Linked DNA regions of Homo sapiens: region 2 is linked to region 1. The links come from fine-mapping of genetic effects on gene expression. A gene starts in region 1. The other region holds a variant in brackets. All regions are shown on one strand. Distances are from middle to middle.

Region 1 (4,390 bases):
AAGAGAGGTGAAACTCGAAATGCAGTGCCCACTCCCTCTCCCTCCTGAGATACATAAACACAACTTGGTGTTGAAATTTGAGATGGTACAATGGGAGTGGGTGTGGTTTAGGGAGAGTTGTATCTGCCCTGCATAGATTTGGGGGCCTGATGCAGTGGTCCAGACAGACCTGAAATCTGATTCCAGTGGGACTTCTGGGAAAGTGGCTAAACCTCTTAGCCTGTTCCCACCTATAAAAATGAGGAGACAGAAACCTACCAAATAAGATTCCTTCAAGCATTTAAGTGATGCAGCACTCAATCAATACCAGCTTCTGTGTGTTCACGCTAATTTCTATTATCCATGGACTAGAGAAGATAGGATGGGGGTTTGATGGATGCAGAGGAGAGGGAGGGGGGTCACAAAGGAATGATTACCGGAAGGTGATAAGAGCTATATCTGTACACCATGGCTAAGCTGTGACAAGAAAGCAGAGAGGTGTAAATGCCAGGGTGGGAGGTGAGAAGCAAGGAGATTGGGGGGAAAGCCAGGGCCAGAAATGAAACGTCCCTGTCCTGTGTGTCATGCTCCTGGAAGCTGGGCCTCCAGCTGGGTATGACAGCCAGTTTTTCATGTGAGCTTCCCCTTCTAGGATGAGGATCCACAGAGCTAGCAACCTTGCTGAGCTAGATACTAAGCAAGAGTCCTAGAAGCAGGTCCCATTATCAAGCCAGATGGGAGTAGGTTCTGGTACGGCCACTCTGTTCCGTGTTCCAGAGGTATCCAGAGTCCAAGGGGTGGTCTGCACCCCCGCTCCTCCATCACTCTCTCCTTTGTGTACTTGTCTCTCCAATGAGATGGTTAACTCCCTTGGGAGCAAGGAATTATCTGTCGCCCCTCTTCTTGTGTCTAGTGTAGTGCTCTGAACAATGGGTTTCAGTTAATTAAGCAAACATAAATGTATTCTTCTGGAGCACAGTGTTTTCCTCTGCTCATTATATGATACCACTTATCCAGAAGTTCTTTCCAAGAAAGTCCAGACAGCTCCTGGGGAGAACAAAGTGCCAGGTGTGAGAGGGCAGGTCCTACAGAATTGTTGCTTCCGGCCACAGAGTACTTATGCTAAAACATGTAAAAGTATTAAAATTAGGGCAGTGTGGTTATTACCATTTTACAGTTGAAGAAAGTGAGGTTCAGCCGGGTCACAGCTTGTACATGGACTCCTGGGTGCAGTGCAGTCCTGGGTGCAGTGCTCTTTCCACTTTCTTGACCCAGAGGTCTGCTTCCTGCCCATAAGCCAGGCCCTCCAGCTGGATGCCCGTTCCTCAGAAGCGGCCCTTTGTCCCACCCTCCATCATTCTGCATTCCCATTCTGAGCACCTACTGTGTGCCAGAACATTTCCAGACTGTGATGCTGGCTGTGAGAGGGCAGAGAGCAAGGTGAACACGGGTCAGATTCCCCCAAAGGGCGGAGGTGATGGGGATTAGTTTATGGAAGTCCTTTGGTGCCTAGCACTTGGCTGGACACTGTAAAAATGCCTCTGTTAGCCTGGGAAACCTAGCGACATCCAGTCTCTTGGAAAGAAAAAAAAAAAAAGCCAGGCATGAAGGCGTGTGCCTGTGGTCCCAGCTTCTGGGGAGGCTGAGGCTTGAGCCCAGCCCTGGAGGTTGAGTTTGCAGTGAGCCGTGATCGCGCCACCGCACTCCAACCTGCGCGATACTGCCAGATCCTGTCTCAGAAAAAAAAAAAAAAAAAAAAAAAAAAGCCTGTTACCCGGGAGGAGAGCTCCTCGCCCGACCTCTACCCTCATGAAGAGAGGCTCAGAGGGCTGAAGTGCCTATTTGGCCGAAAGCCGTGGCAGAGTGGCAAGGCAGGGCCAGGGGAAGCGGCTCCGCCGCCGGGGCCGGGCCCCTGTTTGGCCGGTGCCCGGTCCTTAGCCTGAAGGTGGCGGGCTTCCGCCAGAAGCCCCTGGCGGAAGCGGTGCCCGCGTGCGGGCCAGAGTGTGGGTGTGCAGGTCTCTGGGCGGCCCAAAGGGGGTGCCCCTGCCTGGTAACCTAGCGGGAGGGTGGGGACGGCGGGGAGGGCGGCGGGCGCGGGGCACGGCTCCGCTGCTCAGGGCAGGCTCCGCCCCCAGGGGCGCGGATTTAAAAGGATCGAAGGCAGCCCCGGAGCCCAGCGGCCGGGAAGCGCGCCCGAACGAAGCCGCGGCCCGGGCACAGCCATGGCCCGGCGGGCGGGGGGCGCTCGGATGTTCGGCAGCCTCCTGCTCTTCGCCCTGCTCGCTGCCGGCGTCGCCCCGCTCAGCTGGGATCTCCCGGAGCCCCGCAGCCGAGCCAGCAAGATCCGAGTGCACTCGCGAGGCAACCTCTGGGCCACCGGTAAGTCTTTGGGGACGGAGCAAGCAAGCGCCCCTCATCCAGTTCAGACCCCATTTCCTTCTCAACCCTCTGGCCGCTCCTCAGCCACGGACACTAGTGTCGGAGCAGGTGGAAAACCCTGGGGCTCATCTAATTTAATAGATATGTACTTGAGACCCGGACAGGTCAGTGACTTGGCTAAGGTCGCGCAGCCAGTTTAAGACAGGGCTGGGCTAGATCCTAAATCCCACTGCCAGCCGGTGCCCCTTACCTTAGGCGAGACTTAACCGAATCTTCTAACCGCTGGTGTGTTTTTGCTGCACCTCCACTTTCCAGGCGCCTCTTCACTCTCCACTTCCTACCCTGCCCTTTTTCGTCCCTTGTCCAAGCAGCCCACACAACTAGCAGAGTTTCTCCCTGGCCCTGGACCATCCCACCTTCCTGCCAGCTGTGCCATCCTCTCTACCTGTTCAGGAAAAGCTGAGGGAGCAGGCTTTGCCACCACCCAGACACCTTTGTGGCTCCTTGGTGAGGTGGAAGCACCAAGAGGAGGAAGGTTAAGTGTCTTCCCGCTACAAGAACGGAAACGTGGGAGAGATGAGGAACTTTTCCTCTGAGGTAGGATCCTGGCTGCTTGACTTCCTTGTGCCTGGACACCTCCTTTCCAGGTCACTTCATGGGCAAGAAGAGTCTGGAGCCTTCCAGCCCATCCCCATTGGGGACAGCTCCCCACACCTCCCTGAGGGACCAGCGACTGCAGCTGAGTCATGATCTGCTCGGAATCCTCCTGCTAAAGAAGGCTCTGGGCGTGAGCCTCAGCCGCCCCGCACCCCAAATCCAGGTGAGCCGGGCCCCTGCTCCAATGTCAGGAGGGCCCAGCTGGGGCCATCCCCGGATCCTGCATGGGAGGAATTACCACCCAGTACTGTATTAGGGTGTGACTGTCTGACTAGGACATTATGGGTGTGGACCCCAGAAAGCCAGGTTTCCAGGCTTTTCCCTCTTGAGGCAGAGCTCAAAGGAGGAACAGTCCAAAGAAAGGAAGCTGACCTTCCCAGTAGACCCCATGGGGCAAGAAGTAGGGAAAGAAGTTCCCCTGACTCATCACCCAGTCTAAAGTAACAGACTGGGATCATCAGCCTTTTGGAGCAGGACCTTTCTCCCCCAGTCTACACAGTCTTGTCCCACCCATGCTGTTCCCTGCTGCATTAGTCAAGTCCACCTTTGCTGTGTCCTGTGTATGCTTGTGGCCGGAATGGGACCCTGAGGCCCAGAGAGGGAAAGAGAAGTCAGCAGCCAAGACAGAGTCTGGACCTTGTTCACCTGGACTGGAGCTCTTCCCATTCTCTCATCTGCCTCAGTATCCAGTGGTAGGGTTTAGCAACTTCAGTACATTTGACGTTCTAGGCTGAATCACTGTTTCTTGTGAGGGCTGACGTGTGCATCATGGGATGTTTGGCAGCATCCCTGGTCTCTACATACTAGATGCCAGTAGCATCTTTCCCCCCCATCAAGTTGTGACAACTGAAAAGACCTCCAGACATCACCAGATGTCTGCTGGGGGAGAGGGCCCCAAATCATTATTGGTTGTCAGTCACTGATCTATGGGATTCAAGACTCCAAAGCTGGAGCCAAGCTAGCCTCAAGGTATAGCCCCGCTGAGTGGCAACTCCTTCATTCCCTGCTCCTGGTGCTGTCCTTACTGCACACCACCCTCCCTGGTCCTGCTGCTGTGTGCAGAAGGCAGTGTGATGTGGTAGAATGTGGGTTTTGACTACAACGTGCTGGGCTCATAACCTAGCTACTTAGTAGCTGTATGACCTTAGAAATGTCCCTTAACTTCTCTAAAGCCTCAATATTCTTCACCCATAAAATGAAGATAATAAGGCCCATCTCCCATTAAATGAGACCATTTATGTCAAATGCTCAGCATGGTGCCTGGCTCATAGACAGCCCTTAGTAGATGCGAGCTCTTATCAGTCTGTGAGCTCCCTGGCGGCACCTGTTGTAGACTCGCCTTCATATCCCCCAGTGTGCCTAGCATATAGTGTGT
Region 2 (4,390 bases), 810 kb before region 1:
GACAATACATTAGGGATGACAGAGAAGTCATTCTAGATGGATAAAACTGTGTGTATGTTCACAGAGACACAAATAACTCATGGCTCTTTAAAGGAACAATTAATGGTGGCCCAGTAGGAACAGATCACAAGGTAATATGAGGATGCTGTGAAGCGGAAAGGTGGGAAGGAGGGCTCGCAAAGTAGGCAAGTTCAAAATCACAATCACTCAAACATTTATTGAGTACCTACCATGTACCAAGTACTGAATATACATATATGCAAGGTCTATATTTAGAATCAACTACATCAAATAAAGGTAGAAAAGCACAGAAGCACTTGTAAAATATACTATAGTGTTCACAAATGAATAATCAACAGTATAAAATGGGTGCCAAGATTGTTGGTGTGCACTAATACACGGATGATTGAGTTACATACGTGTGTGTGTGTGTGTGTGTGTGTGTAGTTAATACAATAATAGATGTAGTATCCAATGCAGAGAAGGTAATGAGTGATTCCAAATTACTATTTACTTAACAAACCTAGGATATAATGGTCCATGCTGGGAACCCACCAAGACAGACACAGATAAAATTTTTAAAAGGTTGGGAACAAAGTGAAGGGATGGTAAACAAAATAAAAATCATGTTGTAAAAATAGCAGTGGACAAAAATTAAAGAAGATTAACCAGGAAAAAGATCAAAGGATCTTTAAGTTTCTCTTAATTCCAAGATTCCAAAGCTTAACAACTGAGCAAAAATTTAAAAGCTTATTCTGGTGTTTCAAAGGTTTTATTCAAGTCATCACTGTCACCAATAAAAAGTACTGTGTGCCCATTATGATGAATAAGATGCAGTGCTAGACAGTACAAATGGGAAGAGGGATACAAAACTGAATCTGCCAAAGGATTCAAAAATGACTAAGATCCTTCCCTATTTAATAAATGGTGCTGGGAAAACTGGCTAGCCATATGTAGAAAGCTGAAACTGGATCCCTTCCTTACACCTTATACGAAAATTAATTCAAGATGGATTAAAGACTTACATGTTAGACCTAAAACCATAAAAACCCTAGAAGAAAACCTAGGCATTACCATTCAGGACATAGGCATGGGCAAGGACTTCATGTCCAAAACACCAAAAGCAATGGCAACAAAAGCCAAAATTGACAAATGGGATCTAATTAAACTAAAGAGCTTCTGTACAGCAAAAGAAACTACCATCAGAGTGAACAGGCAACCTACAAAATGGGAGAAAATTTTCACAACCTAGTCATCTGACAAAGGGCTAATATCCAGAATCTACAATGAACTCAAACAAATTTACAAGAAAAAAACAAACAACCCCATCAAAAAGTGGGCAAAGGACATGAACAGACACTTCTCAAAAGAAGACATTTTTGCAGCCAAAAAACACATGAAAAAATGCTCACCATCACTGGCCATCAGAGAAATGCAAATCAGAACCACAATGAGATACCATCTCACACCAGTTAGAAAGGCAACCATTAAAAAGTCAGGAAACAACAGGTGCTGGAGAGGATGTGGAGAAATAGGAACACTTTTACACTGTTGGTGGGACTGTAAACTAGTTCAACCATTGTGGAAGTCAGTGTGGCGATTCCTCAGGGATCTAGAACTAGAAATACCATTTGACCCAGCCATCCCATTACTGGGTATATACCCAAAGGACTATAAATCATGCTGCTATAAAGACACATGCACACGTATGTTTATTGCGGCACTATTCACAATAGCAAAGACTTGGAACCAACCGAAATGTCCAACAATGATAGACTGGATTAAGAAAATGTGGCACATATACACCATAGAATACTATGCGGCCATAAAAAATGATAAGTTCATGTCCTTTGTAGGGACATGGATGAAATTGGAAATCATCATTCTCAGTAAACTATCACAAGGACAAAAAAACCAAACACCGCATGTTCTCACTCATAGGTGGGAACTGAACAATGAGAACACATGGACACAGGAAGGGGAACATCACACTCTGGTGACTGTTGTGGGGTGGGGGGAGGGGGGAGGGATAGCATTAGGAGATATACCTAATGCTAAATGACGAGTTAATGGGTGCGGCACACCAGCATGGCACATGTATACATATGTAACTAACCTGCACATTGTGCACATGTACCCTAAAACTTAAAGTATAATAATAATAAAATTTTTTTTAAAAATGACTAAGATCCAAATATTTGCCTTTAAAAGATCTCTAGCCTACTAAAGAACAGATATATACAGCAAGGTTAAAAAGTAATTAATGCCTGGCCGGGCGTGGTGGCTCACGCCTGTAATCCCAGCACTTTGGGAGGCTGAGGCAGGCGGATCACAAGGTCAGGAGATCGAGACCATCCTGGCTAACACATGAAACCCCGTCTCTACTAAAAAAAAATACAAAAAAAAAAAAAAA[T/AT]TAGCCAGGCGTGGTGGTGGGCGCCTGTAGTCCCAGCTACTCAGGAGGCTGAGGCAGGAGTATGGCATGAACCCAGGAGGCGGAGCTTGCAGTGAGCCGAGATCGTGCCACTGCACTCCAGCCTGGGCGACAGAGCAAGGCTCCATCTCAAAAAAATAAAAAAAGTAATTAATGCCTAAAGATCAATAAAGGTAATTACAAGCAGGTTTAGGAGAAAACTACAGTTTAGTCTCTGGTTTCATCATTAACCTATCCTTAGAAATTAAAGAACTAGTAAAAGAAGAAAAAGGGACGGGGTAAGCAATTGAAAATTCTAAACCGACATAACCTTATTGTTAGAGAGATGTTGATACAAATTTGTTAATAGTCCTGACTCTGGTATCAGACTGCCTGAGGTTAAATTCTAGTTACACTGCTTCCGAGTTATATAAGCTTGAGCAGCTCAATTTAACTCTGAGCCTCAGACTTCTCTTTGGTAAAGACAGATGAACAAGAACCTACCAGTTCTAACCTCCCTCTTTGAAATTAATTCCTTAAAACAGAATAATTATACAAAAACTAGAGAGTTAGAAATGACCTAGGATAACTGGCTATGATAAAACCAAAATGAAATCAAAGGAATAAATATGAATGTGGAAGGCTTATCATACAGATTAAGTTTCAAAACTCAGGAATAGATATTATCCATATTCTACAAGAAAATGGACAATAGGGCTCAAAGAACTTGTTTAAGGACACTGCTCAAAAGTTATAAACTCTGGAGTCAACCTAAATCCAAAGCTCATTTTTTTAAATTCTAGACTGTATTACCTTCCAAAATCTGTAACTGGACTTCTAACAACTATTTTTAACACATACTAGAGCACACACAAGGATGGGCACAGGCACAACAGGGACAGGGAAGGGAGATATTTCAGTATTTATGAAGAGGAAAGTCGCCAGTCAGATAAAACAGAAAAGAGGAAGGCATGCCAGACTTTAACCCTTTGGTTGTTGGATCATAGACGCCGTGTGGGAAAGGGAAGAGTGATCATCGGGGTGGTTCAAGAGCAACTAGGACAAAAAGAAGTAGGAACAGGGCCTCGGGAGCAGTAATTCAAAACTGTAACAATCATTATGGCTTCCGCAGTACATACTACCTGGCTGTTGAGCATACAAGTATGCATTTCTAAAAAGGTTATGGTTAAAATCACAGGAATCTGGCTTCCAAATTTCAATCAAGGCACATTGGCAAGGACTCATTACCAACTGACTCCTAGCACTGCCACCAGCAACATCACCCAGGGGGAAAAAAAAAAAAAGTAAAGACCCAACAAAAGCCTCCCCAGTAGTCGCTTTATGTTGCAGCTGACTCAGATATCAATAGAACTCACTGCCTTTGATGTAGCCAGTCTAGCTCAAATGCTTCAGTCTCCTTTTTGCCCTTTCTCAGAAACAAGAAGAGGGTAGCAGGAAAGGAAAGCAAAGAAAAAGGGCAGAGGGAAAAGCAGCACACACAAAAAGATCCAGTGTTCACTACAGATCTCCGAAAGAAACCAGCCCTGGCATGTTTCAAAAAACCACCATCCATATATTCTACCATTTTGTGCAATTTAGTCCTGGCTGCAATTTAATCTAGTGATCTCATAACAGTGTGGATCTGTAAGACCCAGAAAGAAACACTACAGCAACTGAAATCAGTCAGGCTTGATAAATCAGATCATTGGGGAGAAGAAAGTCAAGCCTAAATTATTCTTAGGCTCAATGTGAAAGAAGCATCCTTTTAATTTGTCAAACGGCAACGATCTCTACATAATTCCTACATTAAATTTATAAAATGTTCATCCCTTGTTTGTTCAAATATTTTTTTCTTTCCCATGCTCCCTTCTTTTTAGAACTCCAATTACATGCATATTATAGACCTTTTAAAGACTGTCCCACATTTTCCAGGTTCTGTTCATTTTGTTTCAATCTCCTTTTCTCTCTGTTCTTCAAATT

Alleles and levels. Alleles are on the strand shown, and positions count from the first base shown. SD is a standard deviation of normalised expression in the study named.
With allele AT in place of T in region 2, the expression in naive CD4 T cells of the gene that starts at base 2,155 in region 1 is lower (moderate effect, 0.65 SD a copy in Schmiedel 2018).

The links.
Region 2: its variant is fine-mapped to the expression of NMB in naive CD4 T cells (Schmiedel 2018, PIP 0.90).

Annotation. Positions count from the first base shown.
Region 1 is chr15:84,655,964-84,660,353 of GRCh38, reverse strand. It overlaps NMB (neuromedin B), which reads left to right and starts at 2,155. Exons shown (of 3, transcript NM_021077.4): 1 at 2,155-2,358; 2 at 3,006-3,178. The coding sequence starts at 2,202. RefSeq lists a silencer at 2,040-2,199.
Region 2 is chr15:85,463,131-85,467,520 of GRCh38, reverse strand. The region is part of intron 1 of AKAP13 (A-kinase anchoring protein 13); the gene reads right to left. Among named protein-coding and RNA genes, the nearest start is that of AKAP13, 85 kb to the right of the region's middle. The variant T/AT (reference allele first, on the strand shown) is at 2,414.